Linked DNA regions of Homo sapiens: all the other regions are reported to be linked to region 1. The links are microRNA targets in miRTarBase. Many come from high-throughput screens and were not tested one by one. Region 1 holds a microRNA gene; each other region holds the end of a gene's coding sequence.

Region 1 (7,122 bases):
AATGTGCAGTCTAGTTGGGTTGATAGTATGCACACACAAGAAAAAAATAAACCTACTTGACAAAGGAACAAGGCAGTGAATGTTCAGTGTAAGGTAAATTATTCAGATAAGGGGAAGGGAGGGTGAAGGAATTCAGAGAAAAAAGCTGCCACTAGGCAGGAAAGCGTTCACAGAAAAATATGCATAAATAAGGGGCAAAGACAAGGAATTAACATACTATGAACATCGTGCTCTCATATTTAACTTCATCCTTATGCCTCAAACATTTAGAGAGTGCCTACTATGTGCCAGATACAACATCAGGTGATTTTACGTATATTATCTGTTAATCCTCACAACTATATATGAGGTAGGGATTATTCTTCTCATTTCATGAATGAGAACTGAAGCTCAGAAAGGGTAAATAACTTTCCCAGAACACACAGCTAGTAAATGGCTGAGCCAGAATGAAAACCCAGGTCTCTCTGACTCCGAAGACTACATTCTTTCTATACCACAGTGTCCATAAAAAGCTACTAAGACAAAGTGGATGAACCTCAAAAACATTATGCTAAGTAGAAGAAGCCAGGCACAAAACGTCATGTATTGTATGATTCTATTTATATGAAATATCCAGAGTAGGTAAATCCATAGAGACAGAAAGCAGACCAGTGTTTGCCAGGGACCTGGGAAAGCGGTGAAAGGCAAATGACTGCTTAATGGGTACAGTTTCCTTTGAGGGTGATAAAAATGACTTGGAACTAGACAGAGATGATGGTTGCACAACTACTGAATTACTAAATGCCACTGAATTGTACACTTTAAATGGTTAACTGTTAATTTTATGTTATGCAAATTTTACCTGTATTTTTAAAAGCTATTAGAAAGGAGAGTTTGAGGAGACAAAACCAGGGAAATGGAACACTCATCATATTTGGGGAACAATGAGGAGACTGAGCCAAGTGGAGCAGCACGAAGAGCCAACATTTTCTTCTCAGCTCAGATGAAGAATTTGGGTAAAAGTGTGAGTAACTTTCCTTAGTTTAGAGTGAGAGAATTCCCAGGCACAGACACCTGCCTTCCTTAATCACAGAAAGAGCTGCCCTAGCTGGTCCAAAATGCCTCTGGTTGCATTTTGGTGTTAGGAGGGGTGAACGCCACCTCTCCTGTGGGTCTCCTAAATTCAGCAGACACAGTATTCTGCTTGAGCATTCCCAAGTGATTCCTCAATCTACGAAATGTGGTTATTTCTTGGTTACTGAGGGGCAACTCTAAATCTCTGTAAACCTGAAATACGTGGAATCATCTCTTTACTAATGAGGGTGCGCAACCGGCCATCCTGCATCTTATCTCCTGTGGGCTGGCTTTGATCTTGGCATTGAGGGTGCAGCAACTCTCAGGAAGGGTCTCAGGAGCCACTTGAGATATTTGATTGTCTTTACTGCCTCTTATGTGAGATGTAATAGGCACTAAAGCAACTCATGTGGATGGGAACTTCCGCAGGCCAAGGCACACCCCCAGTCAAGGGTCTGCCATCCAAGCTGCAGCAAGCCTGGCACAGACCTACCTCAGAGCATCACTTTCCTTCCAAGCTCTTTGGGAAATGTTTGCCTTCACTCCACACGCTCCTCTCAGATGTACACGCACCATTGACGGTGGCTTCTATTTACTCAGAGTTTCACTGTGCAAACGAATCTTTTCAAAGCCCTGCAGCCTTTCTGGCAGCAAGAAGGAGGCAGCATATGTGAGTGGGCTCTACTGCTTTCCCTCCCTTCCCCAGTGCCTGGGACGTGGCTGCCCTGGTCGGCCTGTAGCGCAGTTTCCTCCATAGAATAGGCTCTGCTCCTGGAAGGTGTCTACTGAGTGGGTCTGGGATACAAGAACTAGCCTCTTCAGCTGCCCGCTCATGCCCATTATTGGGGTAATGGTAGTGCCCAGAAAGGGTGCTTCCCACAGACCAGTTCAGAGTTTTGCATGGTGTCAACTATGATGCTGAAAGTCACATTCTGTGTAGGATCCAGTAAGAATTCTACAAGGTGTCCTGTGCAGTGGTGCACATAGGATTCCATCCAGTGCCTAATGCATTATCCACTCAAGTGCTCTATGCAGTGACCACCCTCAGCCCAGGGAGTTATAAGGTAGTGCTGCCTGGGCAATGACCAGTGAGATGACCTCAGCCATCCCAAACATACAATCTGGCCAAGAGTTCTATGCCATGCTCAGCTCAATTCCCCACAGAGTGCTCCAAGCTAAGCCCAGCATGAGGTCTGACACTGTGCTGAATATAATTCCTAGTGCCCAATGAGTGCCCACTGGATGCCCTTCAAGGTGGCCAATGAATGGACTTCACACCCCAGTGAGTGACACACCTGGGAAGTTCTCTCTTGCCCAAACCCCCCCTGCTAGGGAGAAGTAGGACCACCCCTCTGACCTCCTGATAAATCTCAACCTCACTGCCAGCCTCTCCACAGGCTCTTGGTGTCTTTAAAAAGCCACACAATATTATTTTATCTAAACAAGCAACTTGCTCTAAACCTGAAGCCAACCAAGAAAACATAAAACCCGAATACTAACATAACAAAGTTTTATTTTGAGATTCTTTTTTACATCTTTTAAAAGCAAGGTGTAGTACATGCTTATTATAACACAAAACATGACAAGCAAATAGTACAGGAACCTATTACATAGAAAGTGAAATTCCCTGTTTCCTTTCCTCTCTCTCCCATCTCCCATCAATCCCTCTTTCTAGAATTAACTACCATTTATTTGGTTTGCATCCTTTTGGGTCTGTTCCATGCATTACTCAGACATTTACATTACATGCATTTAACTCTTTTTTATACATATGAGCTGATACTGATGCATTCTTCTGAAACCTGCTTTTTTCATTTAATATAATGTGATAATGTGGTCACCTCTCCATGTCTATGCATACGTATTTACTTCCTCACCTTTAGTTAATGCATATTATTCCATAGTACAAAGGTACTTCCAGTTTTTTAACCAGTCCTCTGTTGATGGCATTTAGACCATTTCCACTTTTTCACTGCCACAAACAACATTGCAATTACCATCTTTTATGTACTGATAATTCTGCAAAATCACCCTCTGAAAAGATTGTAACAATTTACACTTCTTCATGATGAGCACAGTAGAAATCTTTCCCTTGCTTCTGGAAAGCCATTAATCGACTCCACTTTAAGAAATGCAGGAGGCAGAAGGTTGCCAACGCAAGCTGCATGTCCCTTCTGTCTATTCAGAATGGAACTGCCTGTTCTCACTGGGCTTGGGTGTGGTCCCTTTGTCTTGCAATATGCAAGCTGGAGCCCAGTCCTTGGCATGCTCTCCCAGCTGCCAGGTGTGAGGACCTGCCCTCAGTGCACAGGAGGCAGGCTCAGCTTACATGGTGATAAGGTCTCATTCACAGAGAAGCAGGCTTCACTCACATGGGATCAGGCTTCACCCACATGGAACCAGGCTTCACACACATGGAATCAGGCTTCATTCACATGGTAATCAGGCTTCACTCATATGGGATCAGGCTTCACTCACATGGAACCAGGCTTCACCCACATGGAACCAGTCTTCATTCACATGGTAATCAGGCTTCATCATGTGGGATCAGCCTTCATTCACATGGGATCAGCCTTCATTCACATGATGATCAGGCTTCACTCACATGGAGTCAGCCGTCAATCACATGGGATCAGGTTTCACTCACATGGAATCAGGCTTCACTCACATGATGATCAGGCTTCACTCACATGATGATCAGGCTTCACTCACATGGAGTCAGCCGTCAATCACATGGGATCAAGTTTCACTCACATGGAATCAGGCTTCACTCACATGATGATCAGGCTTCACTCACATGATGATCAGGCTTCACTCACATGGAATCAGGCCTCAGTCACATGGGAACCACTGTAGGATCAGGTTTCACCCACATGGGGTCAGGCGTGGCTCACATGGTGATCAGAGTTTGCAGTGTTTCTGCTTCTGCTGCCCCATGACTATCTCGAGAGATCCCTTGAGTGATGCAGGGATCCCTAAATGAGCACAGAGCCATTGGTCATCCCTAATTTCCATAGAACAGTCTTTCTGTCTATCTGACAGGCTCTAGGTCCCTGGCTTTCCCTTTAGTTCCCCACTTGGACTGGAGCCCAACTGACCAGGGCTCCGCCCTCTTCTCTTTGCTCCCTCCAGCTCAGCACCAGCCTTGGTGCCAGCACCCCCACTGACAATGATGGTGAGATTCTTGAGATTCATGCCACTCTCTCACTCCTCTACCTTCTGTTCTGGACTGGGTCAGAACTACCTCATTCTCCAGAATTGGGGATTTGGACAACTGAGCAGTCCCGCTTTTATCATAGCTGCCCAAGCATCTCTCTGCCAGCCTGTGCTTCCCACCTCGTGCAGTGCCAGGAACCAGGATGTCTCATGGCTGGCTTTATCTCACATTTCACTCATTCATTCAACAAATCTTTATGATATGCCACTGTACACCATGCACATTTTCTACCAAACTGTAAATGTCCTAAAATAACTACATACGTATCAAGTTCTGTGTTTCTTTTGTAATATGGATGGCAAGTTATTGAAATTTTATGAATTCATTACTATAAACCGGATACAGTTCAGTCCTCTTTCTGGAATAAATGCACTTCTAGACAGTTACCACTATAGCACTCTATCCCATCCCACTGATTGTATAATAAAAGTCAACATGTATTAAGTACTCTTCAAGTTTGGTCCAAGAGGCATACATGTGTTCGTTTAAATCCCCACCAGAACAACCCTATAAGTACCATTGTTATCACCATTTTACAGGTGATGATCTGAAGTTAAATGAGTCACCTGAGTTCACACAGACTGGAAGGAACAGAGCCAGGATCCAAATCCAGACATTTGACATCAGGGCTTACACTCTTTTTTTTTTTTTTTTTTTTTGAGATGGAGTCTCGCTCTGTCACCAGGCTGAAGTGCAGTGGTGCAATCTCGGCTCACTGCAACCTCCGCCTCCTGGGTTCAAGTGATTCTCCTGCCTCAGCCTCCTGAGTAGCTAGGACTACAGGCACCCACCACCATGCCTGGCTAATTTTTGTATTTTTAGTAGAAACTAGGTTTCACCGTGTTGGCCAGGATGGTCTCGATCTCTTGACCTCAGGTGATCCACCTGCCTTGGCCTCCCAAAGTGCTGGGATTACAGGCGTGAGCCACTGTGCCACTGCGGCCTCCCACACTGTTCATTGTTATGGCATTCTGCACCTCCATAGTGGTTCTCTACATGAGTTCCGTGGGCAGAAAACCAAAAAACTCATCAGGGGCAGCTTTGGGAAAGCCTGAAAGATAAAAGGGACAGAACCTAAAATGAGAGCAACAGTTCTGAGCTGTGACCAGTGAGATACCTTGGCGGGCTCAGTGATCTGCAGATGGCAGGGCAGGGCATTTTGTCCAGCATTTTCCAGTGATGCCATGTGGTAGATCCTCAGAGGCCACTGCAGAGGCATGGAGATTTCAGCTTCATCCTGCTGCCAAGAGTCCTACTGATGAGCAGTGGCCATCCAGACTTACTATTCCTTCAACTCCAGTCATCTCTAAGCTTGTCTGCATGGGGGCTACTAAGAGCTCACTGTGAGAACGAAGGTCAAGGACTCTGGGGTCAAAGTGTCTGGACCTATTCACCTCCTGGCTGTACCACTTCATAGATGTGAGATAAGTTACTAAACATATCTGTGCCTCAATTTTCTCAGGTATAAAATGGGGACAATAATAGTATCTTTCTCAGAGAGTTGTTGTGAGAGTTTATCTAATGAAATGTGTATAAAGTACTGAAAACGTCAATAAATACTATTTTTATGACTTCCCAAGGGCCTGCTGACCACTCTGGAACAGTTGAGGCAGTGAACATAGAGCCATGACCACAGACTTGCTAGGTGTTACAAGTTACTTAGTAGGTGTTACAAGGCACATCCAGAACAGGGGAAGGTGGCAACAGAATGGCATGAAAATAACTATATTAGTTTTCTAGGGCTGCTGAAACAAAGTCCAAAAACTGAGTGGTTTAAACCAGGGGTCCCCAACCCCCAGGCAACAGACCAGTACCACTCTAAGTTACATGCTCCTTATAAGAATCTAGGCCGGGTATGGTGGCTCACACCTATAATCTCAGCACTTTGGGGGGCAGAGGCAGGGGGATCACGAGGTCAGGAAATCGAGACCATCCTGGCCAACATGGTGAAACCCCATCTCTACTGAAAATACAAAATTTAGCTGGGCGTGGTGGTGCATGCCTGTAATCCCAGCTACTCGGGAGGCTGAAGCAGGAGAATCTCTTGAACCCGGGAGGCGGAGGTTGCGGTGAGCCAAGATCACGCCACTGTACTCCAGCCTCAGCGACAGAGTAAGACTCTGTCTCCCAAAAAAAAAAGAATCTAATGCCTGATGATCTGTCCCTGTCTCCTATCACCCTCAGATGGGACCACCTAGTTGCAGGAAAACAAGCTCAGGGCTCCCACTGATTCTACCTTATGGTGAGTTGTATAATTATATCATTATATATTAAACGTGATAATAATAGAAATAAAGTGCATAATAAATGTAATGTGCTTGAATCATCTTGAAACCATTCCCCTGCAACCCCCCAACCCTGGTGAAAAAATTATCTTTCATAAAACCAGCCCGTGGTGCCAAAGAGGTTGGGGACTGCTGGTTTAAACAACAGAAATTCATTGTCCATGGTTTGGAGGCTGAAAGTCTAACATTAGGGTATCAGTAGGTGAGTTCCTTTTCAGGGCTGTGCAGAAGGATCTGTTCTAGGCCTGTGTCCTTGGCACGGATGGCACCTTCTCCCTATGTCTCTCCACATTGTCTTCTCTTCACGCATGTCTCTGTGTCCAAATTTCTCCTTTTTATAAAAACACCAGTCATATTGGATTAGGCTCCACCAGAATGACCTCATTTTAACTTGATTACCTCTATAAAGATCCTATCTCCAAATAAAGTCACTCTCTAAGTAGGGCACTGGGGATGAGGACTTCAACATACGAATTGTCAGGTGATGCAATTCAACCCACAACAATGACTAATGAAAATTGTTACCATTCATTAGGCAGCTAACACATGTCAAGGATATAACTATGA
Region 2 (7,122 bases), not on the chromosome of region 1:
TCTGACCGGTCCTTGCTCTGGTTTTAGCCAAGACCCATGAGAGGCTGCTCCCCCAGGGCCCGCCTGAGCTGCCCAGTGAGTCTCCCCCTCCGGAGCTGCCCCCTCCGGAAGCTGCGCCTCCTGTGTTGCCAGCCTCCTCCCTGCAGCCGCCATGCCACTGTGGGAAGCCCCTGCAGCAGGAGCTGCACAGCCTCGGTGCTGCCCTTGCGGAGAAGCTGGATCGGCTCGCCACAGCGCTGGCAGGCCTGGCTCAGGAAGTGGCCACCATGAGGACCCAGGTGAATCGGCTGGGGAGGCGCCCCCAAGGCCCTGGGCCAATGGGCCAAGCTTCCTGGATGTGGACCCTCCCACGGGGACCTCGCTGGGCTCATGGCCCTGGTCACAGACATCTGCCCTACTGGAGGCAGAAGGGACCCACGAGGCCTAAACCAAAGATCCTGCGTGGCCAGGGAGAGAGCTGCAGGGCTGGTGACCTGCAAGGACTCTCCAGAGGGACCGCTCGCCGGGCACGTCCGCTGCCTCCAGACGCTCCCCCGGCAGAACCTCCTGGGCTCCACTGCAGCTCTTCCCAGCAGCTGCTGTCCTCTACACCCAGCTGCCATGCTGCGCCGCCTGCACACCCCCTCCTCGCACATACCGGGGGCCACCAGAGCCCCCTTCCCCCTTTAGTGCCTGCTGCCTTACCCCTGCAGGGAGCCTCTCCTCCTGCAGCCAGTGCAGATGCAGACGTGCCGACCTCAGGAGTGGCACCAGACGGGATCCCAGAGCGGCCCAAGGAGCCGAGCAGCCTGCTGGGAGGAGTGCAGAGGGCCCTCCAGGAAGAACTGTGGGGTGGGGAGCACAGGGACCCGAGATGGGGGGCGCATTGATGGCATTCCTCTTCTCCACATCTGCTCGTTCTTGCCGAGGGTGCAGTGGTGGCGTGGAAGCCCTGTCACCCCACCCCAGGCCACCCTCTCCCAGAGGACGCCATCTCCCTTACTGTTGCTGGGAGCCTCGCCCTTTGTCCCAACTGGGTAGAGCCCCCAGGTGCTGTTTGCTCAGGAGGCTGCTGTGGGGGTGCCTTCCTCAGCCTCTGGCCCTCTTGGCTCAGATTCAATCAAATGTTGCTTCCCTCTCCTGTCTTTCCCACTGGAGCCGCCCAAGCTTGTAGGTGGGTGGTGTGCATAGGCCACGTGTGCCCCACATATGCAGGGGGTGCCCCACACAGCTAGAGCGGCCAGGAGAGCGCCTCCTAACCACCAGCCGTTCCTGATCTCAGGAGCCTTGAAGGGCTGGGCTCTTGCCTTCCTGGAGTAAATATTGGCACAGATTTCATTTGAGAGAACTCAGCCCCCTGGTCTAAGCTGGACTTACCTCTGTGGATTCTGAAATTAAAGAAGTGAGTTGCTAAGGAAGGCCCTGACTCCTATAGAAGGGAGGTCCATGTGGGCCCACGCTGGGGCGGGGCTGGTTGTGCCACCAGCACGCTGCCTCGTCTCCCAGACATCCTCGAGAACATTCAGGAGTGTGCCAGGAAGGGTGGGGCAATTCCCACAGGACTCCTGGGGCACACTCTGAGTCCCCTGGGGCTGCCTCACAGAGGAACCCTGCCTGGGCAGCTTCAACAGCAGCACATATTGTCTCTGTCCTGGAGGCCAGAAGTCTACAATCCAGGTGTCAGGTTCAGTTCCTGCTTTGGGCTGGGAGGGAGGATCGGTCCCGGACCTCTCCCCTTGACCTGTAGATGGCTGTCTTCCTGTTCAGATGGTGTTTTCTACACAGCTGTCTCCAGATTTCCCCTTCATATCAGGGCAGCAGTTGTATGGGGTTATGACCCACCCTAATGACTTCATTTTAACCTGATTACCTCTCTAAACACCCCCTCTCCAAGTGAGGTCACATTTGGAGGTACTGGAGGTTAGGCCTTCACCATACACATTTGGGGAGGGGCACAGTTCAGCCTGTAACACACCAAACGGGCTGGGCCAGTCTTCCTGGTTTTGTCTTGGGAAAAGACATGACCAGGTATCACTAGCCCACTTCTGTCCTGGTTACCGGAATGTGCCTGCTCCCAGCCCGCTCAGCTGGCGCTTGGCAATGCGTTGGAACCAGCCTGCCTGTCATTCCCTTGCATCATCTTCCCAAGAGGCAGAATGCAACCTGTGTGCCCCCAAATCCCTTATTTGACCTGAGGTGGTTTCAGGACCTGTATGTGCACCTGTTGACTGGCAGGGCCAGCCTGGTGTGGACTGGCAGGGCCAGCCTGGTGTGGACTGGCACACTTGGCCCTGTCCTCAGGTCCCTGAGGAGCCTGGGACACCAGCACTGTGGCCTGGGGCAATGCTGGCTGCCCACCATGACTACAGGAGCAGTGCCTTGTGGCTGCAGCGCCCAGTGTGTCCCTCAAGTCAGGGTCACTGGGGACACACTCGGGGCCTAAGTGCCCTGCAGCTGAGCTTGGGAGCTGAAGCCCTTGCTCTTTGCCACCCTGTAGAAGCAGCAGGGCAAGGACACCTGTCAGAGGGGAATGCCCGCAACAGACTGAACATCACAAAGGGATGGGAAGATGCTTTCAGGACTAGAGTGAGCCCCGAGGTGACTGTCTGGAAACAGATCCTAAGACCATACAAGTAGGATGTTTGTTGAAATACGGAGGCTGTTCGCTCACAGCCGTGCTTGCACAGAATCAGGAAGGGAAAGTTTCTAGGTTGCTCCTGCCTGAGGAGCTCTCCTTCTAATAAGCAGGGAGCAGTGCCGGGCACGTTTCAGAGCCACGGCAAGGGGTGGGACACAGTTTCAGAGGGGGGTTGAGAAGCGAAACTGCCCCTGCCCTGACTCTGGCTGTGAGGAGAGGACTCTTGCCCACCCCTGCTGCAGCTGGTGCAGTCCCATCGTGCCTGCCTGTCCTCCCATTCTCCTTTCCCTTCTAAGCAGGGGTCACTGGGCTGTCGACTCAATGGGAGGGGGGGTCACCTTACACTTCTGTGTGGCACATTAAGGTGGTTTTGCTTTGCTGGCTTCCGAAACAGCCACCACGCAAACCCTAGTTGACAGGCACGACTGAACAAATGAGCATGGTGGCTGTAAGTGACTGTCACAGTTAGGCAGCCTTCAACCAGCAGAGCTAGGAAGAGAGCTCGAGCCCTCACCAGTGCCGCCAGCACTCGGCGCATCCTCACCCTGGGCACAGATGCCCCCTCCCAGCCTTTGCCTGCTGGGACAGACCAGGGTATTCAGGACTGAGCCTGGTCTAGGTGGTCCAGACCCAGTTGGACCATATAATAAGTTTAAAGTTGTTTTAAGAATGTGGATTCTAAGTAATAAGTGGTAAGAAGTTCCATGGTCTGCAGCTGCGTTCCTCCTGCAGAAGCAGTTCCCTAGGTCTAGGTCTCCAGGACCTGTCCACAGTCACTGAAACGCCTTCTAGAATTGATCTAGTGGAAAATCTAGATGCAGTTTAGGTCTTTGGCACTGTGCCCATCTCCTTTAAGAACTGTGCAGTGTGGCTTGGAAGAGGAAATGTGGTCCCTTTGATGGGAGAAACTGAAGGACCTTTTTGAACTCAAAGGAGCTCCAGGGTTTGGAATTGGGGGCAGAGAAGGCTCCAGGCTGCTCATTCCATCCTGGGTGAGCCGAACGGGTCCTGGCTGATCTGAGTGCGACCTTCCCAGTCTGCCAGCCAGAGTCCCCCAGCAGGCAGGAACATGTGAAGGTTCCGCTTCAAAATATGAATGAATGGGCTCCTCGTGCCCCTATTATTTTCTGGCCACCCCCAGGGGTCCTGATGGAAGGGAGGCTGGCCTGCGGGGTGCAAGAACCACGATTCACTGCTCCCCGCTGAAGGTGCTTGGTCAAGAGCAGCAGGCATGCTGTTAACCTTTGTGCGGGTTTGTGTTTTGGATGTGGCTCCTATGCACAACCTATGGATTTTATCTCATAAACCATCTTGACAGATTTTGCTCGTCAACTGGGAGCCCTTAATCCATTTAAATGTAATTGACTGACTGATTTATTGAGGCTTTAACAGACTTTCTTACTTTGTGCTTTTTGTTTGTCCCACCTCTTCCGAGGGGGCTTCTCTTCCCTGCCTTATTTTGTATTAACACTGTTGTGGGTTAAAAAAAAAATCCATTTTTTCCTCTGCTGGCCTCAAAATGTAAAGAACTAAAAGGAGAAACACCCAAATTCACAATCATATTTGGGAGGTTTTAGCATATCTTTCTCTGAAAATGATGGAACAAATTGGGAGGGATGTAGAAGATTCGAACAAACTCCTTAACAAAATTGGCCTGATTGAGGCCCGTATAGGACAGTACACCATGGGGCCGGGTGCGGTGGCTCACACATGTAATCCCAGCACTTTGGGAGGCCGAGGCGGATGGATCACTTGAGGCCAGGAGTTCCAGACCAGCCTGGCCAACACAGTGAAACTCTGTCTCTACAAAAAATACAAAAATTAGCTGGGCATGGTAGCATGCACCTGTAATCCCAGCTACTTGGGAGGCTGAGACACGAGAATCGCTTGAACCCGGGAGGCAGAGGTTGCAGTGAGCTGAGATCATGCAACTGCACTGCAGCCTGTGTAAAGAGTGAAACTCCATCTCAAACAAGCAAACAAAAACTGTGTGCCATGGGACTGCTTAATATACATTCTCTTCAAGCATACACAGGACATTTACAAAAATTGACCATATATTAAGCCCTACAGTAAGTGTAAATAAATTTAAAATATTGAAATTATATAGGGTATGTTCTCTGACAATACTTTTACCTTTTAAGCTAGAATTAAATAATAACCAGAAATTCTTATATATTCAAAAATGAGAATTATGCTGCTAAAATAACCCATGTGTCAATGAAGAAATCATAATGGAAATTAAAAATGTTTCCCACCATGAAGGAAGTACCACAGGCCAGGTGTGGTGGCTCACGGCTGTTGTCCCAAAACTTTGGGAGGCTGAGGCAGGCAGATCACTTGAGTCCAGGAGTTCGAGACTAGCCCGGGCAACATGGTAAAACCCCATCTCTACTTAAAAAAAAAAAAAAAAAAAATATATATATATATATATATATATATATATATACACATACATACACATACACACAAACACACACACACACACACACACAGACAAAAATTAGCCAGGTGTGGTGGCATGTGCCTTTAGTCACAGCTACACAGGAGGCTGAGGTGGGAGAATCACTTGAGCCTAGGAGGTGGAGGTTGCAGTGAGCCGAGATCGTGCCACTGCACTCCAGCCTGGGTGACAGAGTGAAACCCCGTCTCAAAAAAAAGAAAACAAGGAAGGAAGGAGAGGAGAGGAAAGGAAAGGAACCATATCAAAATGTGTAGCATAAAGCAATATCAGTACTTAGAAATGTATAGACATAAGTGAGTATGTGGAAAAGGAAGGACAGAATTCACAAGGAGAAACAGAACAGCAAAGGAAATCCAAAGAAAAGTTAAAAAGGGCACACAAATATAAGAGCAGAAATTACTGAAATAGCATACATATAAATGATATAATCAACAAAGCCAAAAATCATTTCTTTACAAAGCTAATAACATTGACTACTAGCCTGTGATGAAATCATCAATGAAAAAAGAAAGCACAAATAACCAGTCTCAGAATGAAAAAGGTGACATTACTGCAGATGCCGCAGGCTATAGAAAGACAATAAGATGATATTATAAGCAACTTTTTGCCAAAAGTTTGAAAATTCAATGAAAATAACTCCCATAAGAATGCAACTTAGACTCAAAAACAAAACAAAACAAAACCTGAATAGTCCCATACCATTGAAAAAAAAATGCATTAGTGATCAAACATCTTACAAAAGAAACTGTAGGGCCAGGTACTGTGGCTCAGGCCTGTAATCCCAGCACTTTGGGAGGCCAAGGCAGGCAGATGGCCTGAGGTCAGAAGTTCAAGACCGTCCTGGGCAACATGATGAAACCCTGTCTCTACTAAAAAATACAAAAAATTAGCCAGGTGTGGTGGCGTACGCCTGTAATCCCAGCTACCTGGGAGGCTGAGGCAGGATAACCACTTGAACCCGGGAGGTGGAGGTTGCAGTGAGCCAAGATCACGTCCCTGCACTCCAGCCTGGGCAACAAGAGAAAACTCCATCTAAAAAAGAAAAAAGAAAAGAAACTGTAGGCCCAAAAGGCCTCACTAGTAAGTTCTATCTCACATTTAAAAAGGAAATTATTTCAATAATATACAAACTATTCCAGAGAATGGAAAAATATGGGACACTCTCTGACTCGTTTTACGAGACTGGCATAATCTTGAAATTTCCAAAACTTGAGGACAGTACAAGAGAACAAAATTACAGGCTAATCTCAAAAAATGTACATAGGAAAAATACTCAACAAAATATTAGCCAAAGAGAATCTAGCAATACACAAAATGTTTTACTGAGTAAAACATCATTACCCAGTTGGCTTCATCTTGTCGATCAAGAATGGTTTCAACGTTTGAAAATCACCAGTGGTAACCCACAATAATAGATTAAAGGGGAAAAGTCACATGATCATCTCAATAGCTGCAGAAAGATCACTTGATAAGAGCCAGCACCCATCAATATTCCAAGTGAACTGGGATGAGAAAGGAAATTTCTTAATTTGATGAGGATTATATACCAAAAAAAAGATGATAGCTGTATTAGCCTATTTTCATGGTGCTAATAAAGACAGACCCAAGACTGAGTAATTTATAAAGAAAAGAGGTTTAATGGACTCACAGTTCCACGTGGCTGAGGAGGCCTCACAATCATGGCGGAAGGTGAAGAAGGAACAAAGGCATGTCTTACATGGTGGCAGGCAAGAGACTGTAGGGGAACTGCCCTCTGTAAAACCATCAGATCTCATGAGACTTATTCACTATCATGAGAAAAGCAAGGGAAAAACCCACCCCCATGATTCAGTTACCTCCAACTGAGTCCCTTCCATAATGTGGGGATTATGGGAGCTACAATTCAAGATGAGATTTGGGTGGGGACACAGCCAAACCATATCAATAGCTAATATGCTTAATGGTGACATATTGAAGTGTTAAAAACCAGTATACCAAAACTAAGTTATATTTACATATACCCACAGCCAACAGTTAGAAAGTATTACTTTAAAGATTTTAT
Region 3 (7,109 bases), not on the chromosome of region 1:
GGTTAGATATTCTTCCAAGTGAACCCAGAAAATATTCTCCATTTACTGAGAATATGAATGCAGTCAAATACTCAATGTACTTTATGGGTCATAAGTATCTATATCTTAATAAAAACTTAACTGCTGAAAAATACTTACAGAATTCATCATAGCAAGCTGTGACGGGTAAGCTTTATAAGGAAAGTAAATCTTCACCCCACCAATTGTATATTCAGACCACATTGAAGACATAGTGCTTTCCTGTTTATTTCAGATTCCTAACTACAACAGAAATGAAAATGTCAAATATTGAGACACGCCTTACAAAGAAAACCAGAGAACCAAAACTAAGGGAGAAATCTGGAAACAGAAACTGGAATTAATAAAAGTATAAACAAAACAAATGGAAACAAAATAATTTCCTAGTCTTATAAATCACAGCGGTCAAGAGCATGTCTTAGAGTCTAACAAATCTAGATTTGTATCCTTCACTCTGCCAGGTATTAGTTGTGTGACTTCGGGAAAGTTAGTTACCTTCTCTAAGCCACAGTGACTGCATGTACCCCATAGGATTGTGGTAATGATTAAGTGAAATAATGTGCAAATATGATAAAGTACATACCAGATTAAACATGAGCTCTTGTAACAGTTAGATCAGATGTAATCAACCTACAGAAACAAATAAGTTCCTGAGGCCTCTCTCTCTACAACTCCGTAGCATCACTCTTTCTCCAGTTCTTCCCCTTTGTGTTACCCCTTTCTGCAGTCCTCCAGTTAGAAGAAAAAAGCTGTTGACCAGAAGTCAGGAAGCATAGGTTCTATACCAGGTTTTGGTATACTGCCTGGTATGTTATCTTTGACTCAGGTATGTTATCTTTGACATATCTTTTTACTTCTCTAGTCTAAGATCCTTACCTGTGATAACCCCTAATTTAATTTAAAGGCTGTTATAAGAAAGAGAATGCCTTGGCACATAGTAGGCACTCAAAAATGTTATTTGAAGATCAGTAGAGTATTATAGAAACAGGATGGGCTTTGGAGTAAGGCAATCCTAAGTTTGAATTCCACTGTGTGAATCACTTAACTTCTCAGAGCTTGTTTCTCCATATATGGAATTGAAATACTACTACTTACCTGACAGGGTTTTTATGAAAATTAGCCAGGGCAGAATGTACCTAACCCAGGATCTGATACAGATGAGGATCACTTTAATCCTCACCTCTTCTAAACCACTTTTCTTAACCTAGGATCCACGGATGTAATTCAGAGACAATGACCTCTTGAAATTGCAAGCATAAGTTTCTGTACATGATTGCATTTTTCTGAAGAAAAAGTCCATAGATTTCTCTTCCCGTAAATATATCTCAAGGAAATCAAAATAGCGGGGGAAATTACATGCACTGTTATTAAATAAGGAATTATTTGCAGTCGTGGGAAAAAATTGTAAATTCAACCTGGGGACGAAGAGATGGTTAAAATAGCAATTCAATAGATTATGAAGCCAATAATAACATTCACCACTGCTTGTGTGCTCCAAAAGAAGAACCATTATTCTAGGGTATTTTCCAGCTCTAACATTTTGCGATTCTATCTGTAAAGCTCTGAGAATGAGGTATGGTGGAATCTAACCTCTTAATATGAATCAACAACTCAACGCTGGCCTAGTTACTCAGATATAATCTAGAAATCAGCCCGTCCTGTACCCCGGCTGTGGCAACAATAGTGTCAAAATGGGGTAGCTTCCCCCAAACATTGCATAAAGGATAAACACACCCCTCTGCCTCCCGCCAAGAATTAACGCAGCGCCCGGGCTAAGAACAGGCCTGCGCTCAAAGGAGGTAAGGATAGGCTCCCTCCTCAGGTTTTCTGCCCCGTATCTCCCTCCTCCCCCAGCCAGTTGAGATCCCCGAGACCCTGGTGATCCAGTCACCACCCATGGGCCCGCAGGCTGTGCAGAAGAACTCAAGCCCTTTCCGTGGACTTCCCTCCGACTTGCCTGTCTGGAGGGAAACCGAAGCAACGCTCTGAGCTCCGATTCACTGAAGAAAAGGAAAGGAAACCGACTTCTGAGAGCAAATAAAGCGGAGCCCTGGAAGAGAAGAAAGGGCACGAGCCCTTCCTCCTCCCTCTTCCTGGGGGTGCTGCTACTTCCCCGGCCTTGTGTGCAGGACTGGGGCCGCCGTTACCTTTCCTCGACCCACCAGACCCCTCAACCACACAACCCGAGACGAATTCCCGCCTCCCGCCCCCTCGACTCCCAGCGCCCAATAGCCCAGCGAGCTCGACCAATCACCCGCCAAGGCCAGGAATCAACCAGTCCCGGTGCGAGGTGAGGGGGCGAGAACTTCGGCATCCAATGGAAGTCTCCGAAAAAAAAAAAAAAAAACAAGGGCTCAAGGTACGCGGCGGAAGGTTGTCGCCACTCCAGCAAATCCCTAGTGTTTGTTTAAAGTAGAAAGTCGTCTCAGTTTGACTTTTGAAACCGGCGATAGAGTCTATGCAGCAAATTCCTTGGAAACTGGAAGTCTCATTCTTCACGTCCGTAGACCAGCGGAAAGGAAGTATCTTTAAGCTTTGCCAAGTTCTTTGAGCATTTATCAGTGCCACTCAATTTAAATTACCCAGCTTTGCAGTAGCCAGGATAGCGAAGACTCAGGCGGGAATTGCCAGACTGCTGAGCCAAACTTAAGTAAGAAGGCTCTGTGACATCGGGCTACAATCTATCTTTCATAATATTCAAGGCTTTCCCGGATGCTAAAATAAGCCAGAGACAAGCTCTCAGGGTCTCCAGTATCAGATCACTTCTACTTCCATTAAGGCTTATCCGCCTTCCATCCCTCCTAAGACCAGTTTATTATTTGCCAGTAGTACTTTAATTTACTCAAAGAAAAGGAGGTTCATCATGATCTTGCCAAATCATGTTATTTTTTTAAAAAATCTGTATAACCTAAACTTGGCTCAAATAATAATGTCTCCAAAAGGCAAAACCTCATACTGTTTCTCAAATTCAAGTAACTAGTTTGGGGAAGGAGTTTGCTGGGAAGAAAGAGCAGGAGGGGGCTAGTTGATTTGTTTGCCTCATTGTCAATTGTGATATATCTTACCAAAAATGACAAAACTTGTAGTCATAAAAATAAACTCTACCCTTTGACCTAGTAATCTGAGCTCCAGATATTTATCCTAAAGACGTAATCTAAACGAAAGAAAATGTGATACCGCAATTGACAATAATATCTATTGGTAATACTGAAAAAAATTATGAACTTCCCAGTCTAGTAATATGGAGGTGGTTATGACAGATGAATTCAATACATTATGAAGCCAATAAACTTATAAAAATTAAACTTGCAAGAAAAAATCCCATATAAGGTTAAGTGAAAAAAGGCAAAGCAAACCCCAAACTGGGTGTTAGGGATTCAGTAATGTGAAAATACATATGAATGAGCAAAGATGAAGTAATTTACTGTTAAGACAATGAAAGGAAGGATAATGTTTAAAAATAAATCCTTAAAAATACCTTCAAATTGTCATTTCTCTTTTATAATTTTTAAAACATCAACTCTTGGCCGGGCGCAGTGGCTCACGCCTGTAATCCCAGCACTTTGGGAGGCCGAGGCAGGCGGATCACCAGGTCAGGAGACCAAGACCATCCTGGCTAACACGGTGAAACCCCGTCTCTACTAAAAATACAAAAAATTAGCCGGGCGTGGTGGCGGGCGCCTGTAGTCCCAGCTACTCGGGAGACTGAGGCAGGAGAATGGCGTGAACCCAGGAGGCGGAGCTTGCAGTGAGCCGAGATGGCGCCACTGCACTCCAGCCTGGGAGACAGAGCGAGACTCCGTCTCAAAAAAAAAAAAAATCAACTCTTTTGAGTAACTGCTCTAGTATAACTACTCTCATTTTCCTCTCCTAAATTACTAAGAGTTTCAACTGGCTCTCACCTTGCATTGCCATTTAATGTATGTGGCATAACAGAAAGGGATACACGTAGGCCCTGGAGCCATACAGACCTCGAATACAGTCCCTTGAACCGTTCCCTTCAGGTTAACTCTAGTGGAATGAAACACAAAAACTACAGGTTCGTTTGATAAAGAATATGAATGTTTATAAACCAATATTCAAAATAGCTGCACACATCTGTTTTCACTTGAATAAAAAAACACATTGTGACAAATTTTATAACCTTAACTTAAAATACATGAATATTAACATTTACTAATATATTTACACATTTTATTTACATCATCAACAAATCTGATGAAAAAGAGCATATGTGATTATTTTAACACAGCAGGTTATGACCAGTCTTTGAATATTGATCCAGGAATGTGCACTGCATTTAATTAGAAAACATACTTTTAACTTTTTCTGAACTCCTAGGGCATATCTATTCACACAAAATATCGCAAGGCCTCAGTTTAAAAAAAAAAGGAGCAGTTGTATTTAATCTTAAGGGACTACAAAACTGCCTTGTTTAAAAATATGAAAATTCTTATGCTATTTTTAAGATACTTTTATTACTTTTATTTTTCACATCAAAATTACTTAATTGAACATTAAGCATCTAATAAAAAGTTATAAATATTCTATCACATGTGATACTATGCACTTCATGATTTGAAACAGCTACAAACTCATTCTCATAGAATATGAGGTAGGGCCAGTAGTAACCCCATTTTACAAAGGAAGAAAATGAGATGTGACTATTTACTAGTGAAAAGGCTAAAGTTAAATTTCATTTCTCAAAAACTACACCTTCTTATTAGCCTAATTTCTTTTACAAGTGAAGCGGTCTGGCCAGGTGCGGTGGCTCACACCTGTAATCCCAGCACTTTGGGAGGCCAAGGTGGGCAGATCACCTGAGGCCAGGAGTTCAAAACCAGTCTGGGCAACATGGCAAACCCCCGTCTTTACTAAAAATACAAAAATACAGGTGGCGCGTGCCTGCAGTCCCAGCTACTCAGGAGGTTGAGGCACGAGAATCCCTTGAACCCAGGTGGCAGAAGTTGCAGTGAGCCAAGATCATCCCACTGCACTCCAGCCTGGGCAACAGGGGAAGACTCCACCTCAGGAAAAAAAAAAAAAAAACACAAGTGAAGAGGTCTGTTTCAAGTGGGGGTGGGGAAGTGTGTGATTGAGGTATATCTCAGAGAGAAAAAAGGGAATTACTTTCTACATTGATAATTTTTTTTTAATGATTAGGGTTTACCTGAATATGTCTGCCTAATCAATGGAAGTTACTGACAGAGGACTGCAAAATCCTTCGGCAAGACAATATTTTCTACACTTTAACTTTTCCTCAGGTTCAAACACTGCATTTTCTTACTCAAAGATCTTCTCAAAGTAAGATATGAATTATAATCCTGATGACAAACCAAGAGCTCTTTAATCCAGTGGGTTTTATTGCTCTACCTTCATTTAATTTGATACATATTTCCCCCCTCTGAGCATTAGGTAAGTTAATAAAGCATTATAAAAATAAATTTAAAACATAAAACTAAATGAGATCTCTCAGGTTCTTCTTTGAACAAAGATGTTTCTGTAAACACTTTTACACCAGTATCTTAAAATTCCAAATTATTCAAGTATCTCTTTAAACATATGGCTTCATATATTAATAAAAATTGAAGCAAATATGTGAAATCTTTAAATCCTCATCTGTATTTCCACAGAAATCATTTACAAAAGCTACTTGCCTTTTTAAAAGTCTTCTCAATACTCTTTCTTGAGAACTAGAATTCCAACTTGCATTACTATTACTTGCACTGCAAATCTTTGAGATTTCTACTTGTGTTTTTAACTCCTATTATTTCCTTAATTCTCCTTTCCCTTTACCCTTTTTTCCTCTCCCATCTTTGCATCTTTGTCACATTCTGTTACAAGCTCACAGTTAAAATAAACACTAGGGCTACCCACAGACTCATTTTTATAAGAAATTAAAGGCATGGCAGTCTTCACTTCAAAAGCTAAATACAAGGCCAAATTCCCTTTCCAATAATGAGTTTCTTACATGTGTTCCCAGTGGAAAAAAAAAAAGCTCAGCTGCTACAATAGAAACATATCAGCAAAGTAGATCCAAAGATGTGCCAATCAGAAACAAGCAAGCATAATTCTCATAAAGTTCTAAACTATACTCATGTTGAATTGAATTGTTTTAGTGATTCCAAGACAATACTTTACTGTTCCCATTCAGTTTAGAGTTGTTACTAATATGCAGATTCATGTTGGGTATATGCAGCAAACAACTTTTTGTTGTTTTAAATTTTGTTTTAAATTCCACTAACACTCATATTTATTATTTCAATTACTGTTCTTTCAATACAGTGACAGAGCTGTACATCAGGATCCATGCTTCCAGTGTCCCTGGATCCATTTTTATAAGATGAATCTTTACAGATTTGAGACCATCCACTTGGTTTCTCCTTTATTTGTTGAAGACCTACAACATAAGGGAAAAAAAACATTAAGGCCAAGAAATTTGGAAAGGAATTTGGCCTTTTTGTTTGAGATATTAAGATAACCCTTGAAAATAAGTTACCACTTACGTGTAATAATTGGATCAATGTCTCTTGTCTGAGTGGCAACATCAGAGGCACAAACTTGCCCTATTTGGATCAGCAAAGACATAATATCCTCATACAATGGAGGAAATGCTCGACAAAAAGAGACCAAACTTGGCAGAGTTGGCATAAAAAAAGCATACCGCTTAGCCTGTGTTAAAACTGTTGGAAAAAAATGAAACAATATTTTAGTTTACAAATATAAATTCAACACAGCTTACACAACATACTAAGGGGAACTATGCTCTGTGCTGGAGATATGAAGTTCTCTAAACACAGCCAACCCGTCTTCAGAAAGCTCACAATCTAGTAGTCTCAGTCTTTATCCAAGATACAAATTATTATGCACAAGTTTTGCAATAAGTACATTACATGCATTATTTCATTGAATTCCTACAATCTTATGAATGACCAAAGTACTATTATGACACTCATTTTATATATGAGAAAACTCTTAAAAAAAGGTTAGAGAGGTTAAGAAACTTGTTAAAGATCACAAGCCAGTTAGTGGTGGGGCTGAGATTGAATTCAGGCAGTGTAAACTCTTAATCACTACAAATAATTATAACA
Region 4 (7,122 bases), not on the chromosome of region 1:
TCCTCCTCCACCAGCCCTGACAACCACGAATCTGCTTTCTGCCCCTATAAATTTGCCTATTCTGAGGGTTTCAAATAAATGGAATCATACGAAAGTGGCCTTTTGTTTCTGGCCTCTTTGAGCACAATGTTTTTAGGGTTCATCCATATTGTAGCATTTATCAGTACTTCATTTATTTTTATGGGTGAATAATATTCCATTGCATGGATATACCAACATGTATTTATCCATTTACTAATTGGTGAATGTTTGAATTGTTTCCAAGCCAGCACATTTTATAGAGGGAAAGGAAAGCACTGGTTAACTTGGAATTCGCTTAAGTGTAGGTCTTTTAAGAGTGTGTCTACTGATGTAGTTTATATAAAAACTAGTTTGAAATAGGGTTTCAAACCACATTGTTTTCCCTTAACTTAAAGATTCTCAACCTGAAAGATGACATAATTCAGCCCATTGTAATATGAGGCCACAAACATTTTGGTATGAAAGGAGCCTTTAAGATAATTTCAGGAAATTGAGACTTACAGGCCTAAGGTGGCTTGTCCCAAATCTCCCAGCTTAACACAGGGAATCAGTGCAGAAACAAAGCTCTCAAATCTTGTTTTATGCCATTACGTTAGCTACCACCTCCAGATTTAAAACCCTGGCATAAGAAAAGGGCTCAGGCTGGGCTTGGTGGCCTAAGCCTATAATCTCAGCACTTTGGGAAGCTGAGGCAGGCAGATCACTTGAGTTCAGGAGTTCAAGACCAGCCTGGGCAACATGGTGAAATGCTGTCTCTACAAAAAATACAAAAATTAGCTGGGCGTGGTGGCATGTGCCTGTGGTCCCAGCTACTAAGTAGGCTGAGATGGGAAGATCACTTGAACCTGGGAGGTAGAGGCTGCAGTGAGTCAAGATCGCACCACTGCACTCCAGACTGGGCACTACAGTGAGGCTCTGTCTCAGAAAAAAATTTTTAAAAAGGTTCAGATGAAGGAAAAAGACCTTAATGAAATGATGTCTAAGAATGGGATTTTAAATCAGCAGTGAAGGAATCCTCTTGTGGTCACTACATGTCCTCCTGATGATTTGTCTGAGCTAATCTAAGCATGAAGCACGCACAGGAACATAAAATGGGAGGGGTGGTAGGACACAGGCCCAGTGCTGAATTGGCCCAATTAGACTGAAGAGAAACCTTATTTCCCATGGTTGTGGTAGATGGCCGGGTCCCACCCCACCTCATATCTACTGACCATAAACAAGGATCTCAAAGCAACTAGGAAGCATTGACGCTGATGAAAGGAACCAGCCCTACATGGATGAAGTTAAAATTGAACATGGAAGGAAAGGGAGTCCAGAGAAGCAGGATCAACCAAGTGTACACCCAACCTCTGCACTTCTGGCTGTGAGTTCAAGCAGGGATTCACTTACTAGAAGCCAAAAGCATCCTGATAATATTCTATAGCAAACCATTGAAGGGGCACGGGAATTAGTCACATTGTTATCCCAAATGTAGAAGGAATAGCAAAGTGTTTAAATGATGATTCTGCACAGAGCTCCAAAATAGTAACTTTCAAAATAGTAACTTTTCATTGTTCTTTAGGACTTCACTCGTCTATGATTGTGAAGACTTGTCTCACAATTCCTCTGTTACAACACTCAAGATGTATTATTTCTGTGCCCCTATCACATATGACCTTTGGTGTGTAAAAGCATCAATGAAAAGCTAATTATAAATACAAGATAGCACCCATATGTACATGCCTCATTCCCTAAACCAGTCTTAGGAACTATGTTTGCTCCTGCATCTGGTATGATTCCACAAAAACATTAGAATACTTGCAATGTGATGTATAAACCTCCGGTTGAATCATTTGCAGAAAGTGTTGTCAGCTTTTTCTTCCAAACTAGAGAGTGCACAAGCATGAAATAGACACTTTACCACTTACACCAATGGCATGAAATTTTACTGAAGGTACAGTGACAATCTCTACTGCAGCAGTAAATGTTTTTCTTTTTAAAGTTCAGAGGCACATGTGCACACTTGTTACATAGGTAAACTTGTGTCATGGGGGTTTGTTGTACAGATTATTTTGTCACCCAGGTATGAAGCCTAGTACCCATTAGCTGTTTTTCCTAAGCCACTCCCTCCTCCCACCCTCCACCCTCCAATAGGCCCCAGTGTGTGCTGTTCCCCTCTGTGTTCTTATCATTTAGCTCCCACTTATAAATGAAAACGTGATATTATTTGTCATGAGTGGCGCAAGGCATAATTCATATGCTTCATTTTGATATACTATATACCCCCCAAATTATATAATTTTTTAAATGTTACCTTAAGTTACAAGGAATATACATGGCTTTTGAAATAATTTTTGATCTTTTTCTTTGCAGTAAACAACCTTGTAATATGTTTTGAATCCGGATATGTAATATATTTTCACAGAGGGGGATAACCTTGTGACCCAAAGGACATTACAGTGAGCTATATTTTAGATTAAGAAGCACAAGAATCGCAGCACTTTGGGAGGCCGAGGTGGGTGGATCACTTGAGGTCAGAAGTTCAAGACCAGCCTGACCAACATGGTGAAACCCCATCTCTACTAAAAATACAAAAAAATTCGCTGAGTGTGGTGGTAGGCACCTGTAATCCCAGCTTCTCAGGAGGCTGAGGCACAAGAATCACTTGAACCCAGGAGGTAGAGGTTGCATTGAGCCGAGATCATGCCAGTGCACTCCAGCTTGGGTATCTGTCTTAATATAATATTTCTTTTTGTCAAGTGGGACTTGCATATCAAGTACCTAATTTGTTACCCTGATATTTTTTGAAAGATCAAAGGCTGTAACCTGTTCTTTTTCCATTTGATGATTTTAAATAACATGAGCTTTCTTAGAGCAAGCACCCAAACACCTGGTAATCCTTAAAATTGATCAAAATGGGGATTAGAGCCTGCTGTTACCCCTCTAAACTGATTCTCCTGGTGGCGGAGTGGGGCGGGGAATAAGGCCAGAGGATGAGAGAAGTAGATTATATCTCAGCACTTTGATTTCTCTCCTTGCTGTTGTTGATCAATGGTGATAGCTAATATTTGCTGAACATTTCCACCCACAGACTCTGTTCCCAGCGCTTTTAGGCATCACCTCAAAGTACCTGCAAAACAACTCTGATAAGTTGGTTCTATTACTCTCATTTCATAGCCGAGAAAGCTGAGGCCCAGAGACATTAAGATCACACAGCGACTAAAGGGCAGGGCAAGGACTCTGCCTCCAGGACACACATTTGTAATCATCACACACACAGCCTCAAGCCTATGGTGACACAAATGACGGGTCATACAATTCTGACAGTCACTGCAAAGGTGAGACAGGAAATGTGCATTGCTTCATTTTCCCTAAGAAGCAATCTCTGGGAGAAGATAAACCATAATGATGACTCAGTAAAGAAATTGGTAACTATCTCTAAATATTCAAAAATACTTACGTGAATTCTCACACTGTGTGTTACCACAATGTGTTCCTTAAATTGGAGTTCTAGCATTTACCACCATTTCATTTATAGACTGTCCATAAGATTGTTGAGTTCCCTGCAAGTAGGGGTATTAGTCTGTTCCCATGCTGCTAATAAGGACATGCCCAAGACTGGGTAATTTATAAAGGAAAGAAGCTTAATGGACTCACAGTTCCACATGGCTGGGGAGGCCTCACAATCATGGTGAAAGGCGAAGGAAGAGCAAAGGGATGTCTTACGTGGCAGCAGGCAAAAGAAGTTGTGCGGGGAACTCCCATTTAAAGAACCATCAGATCTCCTGAGACTTATTCACTACCAGGAGAACAGTATAGGGGAAACTGCCCCCATGATTTAATTATCTCCACCTTGCCCTGCCCTTGACACGTGGGGATTATTAAAATTCAAGGTGAGATTTGGGTGGGGCCACAGCCAAACCATATCAGGGTTATACCTTTTGCAATTTTGTATTCCTTATACGATGCACAAAGGGGACATAAACATTTTGTTAGCCAGTGACTGACAGGAATACTAAATGTTAATATGCAATCCATTTGTAGCCCCAGCTTGTCTGCCAATACTTAGCCTGATGTTCAGTAATTTGTTCTGATTCTGAATAGTGCTATTTCCACAGACACAAGACTTAGTTTAAAACTCCAGAGAATATCCTAAATGAGTTTCAAGCTGTACACGAAAACTCCTATCAGTATTGACCCCTGGACCCAATCAAGCATAATCTAGACACAAAGCAGCTCTGACAATCCAGGAAGCCATGGTTTTTTCTGGAAGTAGTAAAACGATGTATAAAACTTGATCTTGTCATCAAGTTTGCTTGAGTTTAAAGCTTGTTTACCACAGTCCTATAAAACAGGTGAATCCTGCCTTTGGCATATTTTTTGTTTCCAGTTAGTGTTTTGTCTTTCATAAGAATGTCTTATCCCACACTCATTCGATAGCACTTAAGACCCCCCCAAAAAATGCCAACAGTAATTATTTTCCTCTACAGTTTAAAAATATGTGATTAGGGCTGGGTGCGGTGGCTCACGCCTGTAATCCCAGCACTTTGGGAGGTCAAGGCGGGTGGATCATGAGGTCAGGCGTTCAAGACCAGCCTGACCAACATGGTGAAGCCCCGTCTCTACTAAAAATACAAAAATTAGCCAGGCGTGGTGGCATGCACCTGTAATCCCAGCTACTCGGGAGGCTGAGGCAGGAGAATCGCTTGAACTCGGGAGGTGGAGGTTGCAGTGAGCTGAGATTGTGCCACTGAACTTCAGTCTGGGTGACAGAGCGTGACTCCCATTTCAAAAAAAAAAAAAAGATTAGTAGATGAAAAAGTGGCTGCTTGGAGTAGGGAGACTATAGCATTGTTTTTTTTAAAAAAAAATTATTATACTTTAAGTTCTGGGGTACATATGCAGAACGTGCACTTTTGTTACATAGGTATACACATGCCATGCTGGTTTGCTGCAGCCATCAACCCGTCATCTATATTAGGTATTTCTCCTAATGCTATCCCTCCACTAGCCTCCTCCCCACCCCCCCCAACCCCCCCCACCCCCCCCCGGCCCCGAGACGGGCCCCAGTGATGTTCCCTTCCCTGTGTCCATGTATTCTCATTGTTCAACCCCCACTCTTGAGAACATGCGGTGTTTGGTTTTCTGTTCTTGTGATAGTTTGCTGAGAATTATAGTTTCCAGCTTCATCCATGTCCCTGCAAAGGACATGAACTCATCCTTTTTTGTGGCTGCATAGTATTCTGTAGTATATATGTGCCACATTTTCTTTATCTAGTCTATCATTGATGGGCATTTGGGTTGGTTCCAAGTCTTTGCTATTGTGAACAGTGCTGCAATAAACATATGTGTGCTGGGTTATAAATCATTCTATCATAAAGCATTGGTTTTATAAAGATAATACGTCTGAAGAAACAATCGTTAAGTGTAAAATTATTCCAAAAAATTTTCAAAACCTGTGAACTAATCAGCTTTATTTTAAAATATACAAGTATTTTGAAATGTAGAGTTTAAGGCTGTTCTATTTCTTAAACTCCACACAAAACTGACAAATCCATACCAAATTAATCACCCACAGACTGCCAATTTCATCCACTAATTTAACACTACAGCATTCAGGATAAATTAAAGGATTTAATAGTATAGACAGTTAAAAAAAAAAAGCAGTCATTTGTAACATGCTGCTATAAATAGAACAACCAGTTTATGGATTACTGGTACAAAAAGTTTCAATGGCAAACTTAGAGCTTCCTTAAAACAAACAAAAAAAATCTAGACTGAGTTGAAGCGTTCTCCATCTGGGAAAAAAATGCTCATCTTGTGAATTTTAACACTCAGCCAAATATAAAATCATGTTTTAGAGGGGGACCATCACTGATACTGGGACTTAAGCCAGGCTTTCAAGGTTTGGATTAGGCCGACTGATGTGGGGAAGGGTGGAGGCTGCCAGCAAAGGAAGAAATGAGATTCGAAGTTGGGATAACTTGTCAAATGCCAAGGACAATGAGGAGACCTGTTTGTTGGGAGCAGAGTTACATATTAGAATAACAGGATTTAAAGGGAACATTTTTTAAAAGGTATGTTCCAAAGGAAGGTATAGTTGAAAGTACTCTATCCAGTCCAAGAAATTCATATAAATCAGAATTTGGAGAGAATTTTGCTGAGTACCTTTCCAGTGTATACCTTTGCATTTTGTTAAAGGTCACAATCATACCATAGGGGCTTTAGAAATAATGGTAACTTTTTTTAAAAAAGGTATAATCACCTCTTATTTATAATGAACAGCTTTAGTTAAAATATTTGGCCAGATGAAAGCTCTTGAGCATCACCATGGACTCTCAGGCTTTACATCTCTGGAGTATTCCTGAGAAAATAGTAAGAAAAAAAAGCAACTTTCATCACTTTTTAAAAGCTCTTTTTCAGAGGTTGTTCAGGCTTTTCGAGATGAAATATACAGACAATACTGCAGGTAAAGGAAAAACTGAGAGACTGCTTCCCACTTAAGCTAAGTAGGAAGAAAACAAAATGATCTGCTATAAACTGCAAGGTACAACACAAGTCAAAAGTGAACAGTGCATAGTATCCTTCGTTAAGTGAAGGAAAAAGTGTGATTACCCACTTGAAGTTCCCATTACATCATGAGTGCAATTCAATCTGGGGAAAATAGTTTAATGTATCGCTCAGAAAAAAATAGTTTATATTTTTCCATCTGAAACAGTGCTTTACGAGGTCCAACGCCACCAAGCGACTTTCATTCTGTCCCATACTGCCGAAAGTGAATCTAAGGCAGGACGGACGTCCAGGATGGTGAACTGGTAGTCCTTGTTGACTTCACCACCATCATAATAATCAATCACATATCTAACTTCTGTCCCGCAACGGTTTATGATCCAATCGTGCCTATCAAAAGGCAACTCATACCTGGAATAAAAACATGCCACTGAGTGTTAAAATGCTTGCAATACATTCAGTCCCGGTTTAAGCCATGAGAAAACTCAAGAAGCACATGCAAACACCTGCTCCCAAACACCTAACTGGGGAAGTCAGACTTGAAGAATTACACAGTGAACAGCACTAAGGGAAGATGGCACTGAAGAACTGTGATAAGTCCGTATCAGATGA

What was found. The annotated mature microRNA hsa-miR-8070 reads AUGUGAUUGACGGCUGACUCCA and lies in region 1 at 3,767-3,788, opposite strand. An mRNA with a match to its seed (bases 2 to 7 or 8) in the 3' UTR can be bound and repressed. Matches are read on the target gene's strand: a 7mer-m8 pairs with bases 2 to 8, a 7mer-A1 pairs with bases 2 to 7 and ends in A, and an 8mer does both.
Region 2: miRTarBase lists KRABD3 as a target of hsa-miR-8070. The part of its 3' UTR that is shown has no 7-base or 8-base seed match.
Region 3: the mRNA of INTS2 is a reported target of hsa-miR-8070. Seed matches in the 3' UTR shown: 7mer-m8 at 5,109-5,115 and 7mer-m8 at 4,252-4,258.
Region 4: miRTarBase lists HCCS as a target of hsa-miR-8070. Seed matches in the 3' UTR shown: 7mer-m8 at 6,607-6,613.

The regions. Positions count from the first base shown.
Region 1 is chr11:11,779,425-11,786,546 of GRCh38, forward strand. It overlaps MIR8070 (microRNA 8070), which reads right to left and starts at 3,798; the gene lies at 3,711-3,798.
Region 2 is chr7:149,733,179-149,740,300 of GRCh38, forward strand. It overlaps KRABD3 (KRAB domain containing 3), which reads left to right. Exons shown (of 17, transcript NM_001290187.2): 17 at 28-1,397. The coding sequence ends at 869. LOC124901771 (a long non-coding RNA gene) reads right to left here. Exons shown (of 2, transcript XR_007060585.1): 2 at 6,696-6,834. Among named protein-coding and RNA genes, the nearest start is that of KRABD3, 22 kb to the left of the region's middle. RefSeq lists an enhancer at 1,883-2,799.
Region 3 is chr17:61,861,309-61,868,417 of GRCh38, forward strand. It overlaps INTS2 (integrator complex subunit 2), which reads right to left. Exons shown (of 25, transcript NM_001351695.2): 24 at 6,525-6,701; 25 at 4,059-6,418. The coding sequence ends at 6,249. BRIP1 (BRCA1 interacting DNA helicase 1) reads right to left here and starts at 2,220. Exons shown (of 20, transcript NM_032043.3): 1 at 1,976-2,220; 2 at 139-261. The coding sequence starts at 231.
Region 4 is chrX:11,121,411-11,128,532 of GRCh38, reverse strand. It overlaps HCCS (holocytochrome c synthase), which reads right to left. Exons shown (of 7, transcript NM_005333.5): 7 at 5,447-6,921. The coding sequence ends at 6,723. Among named protein-coding and RNA genes, the nearest start is that of HCCS, 14 kb to the right of the region's middle.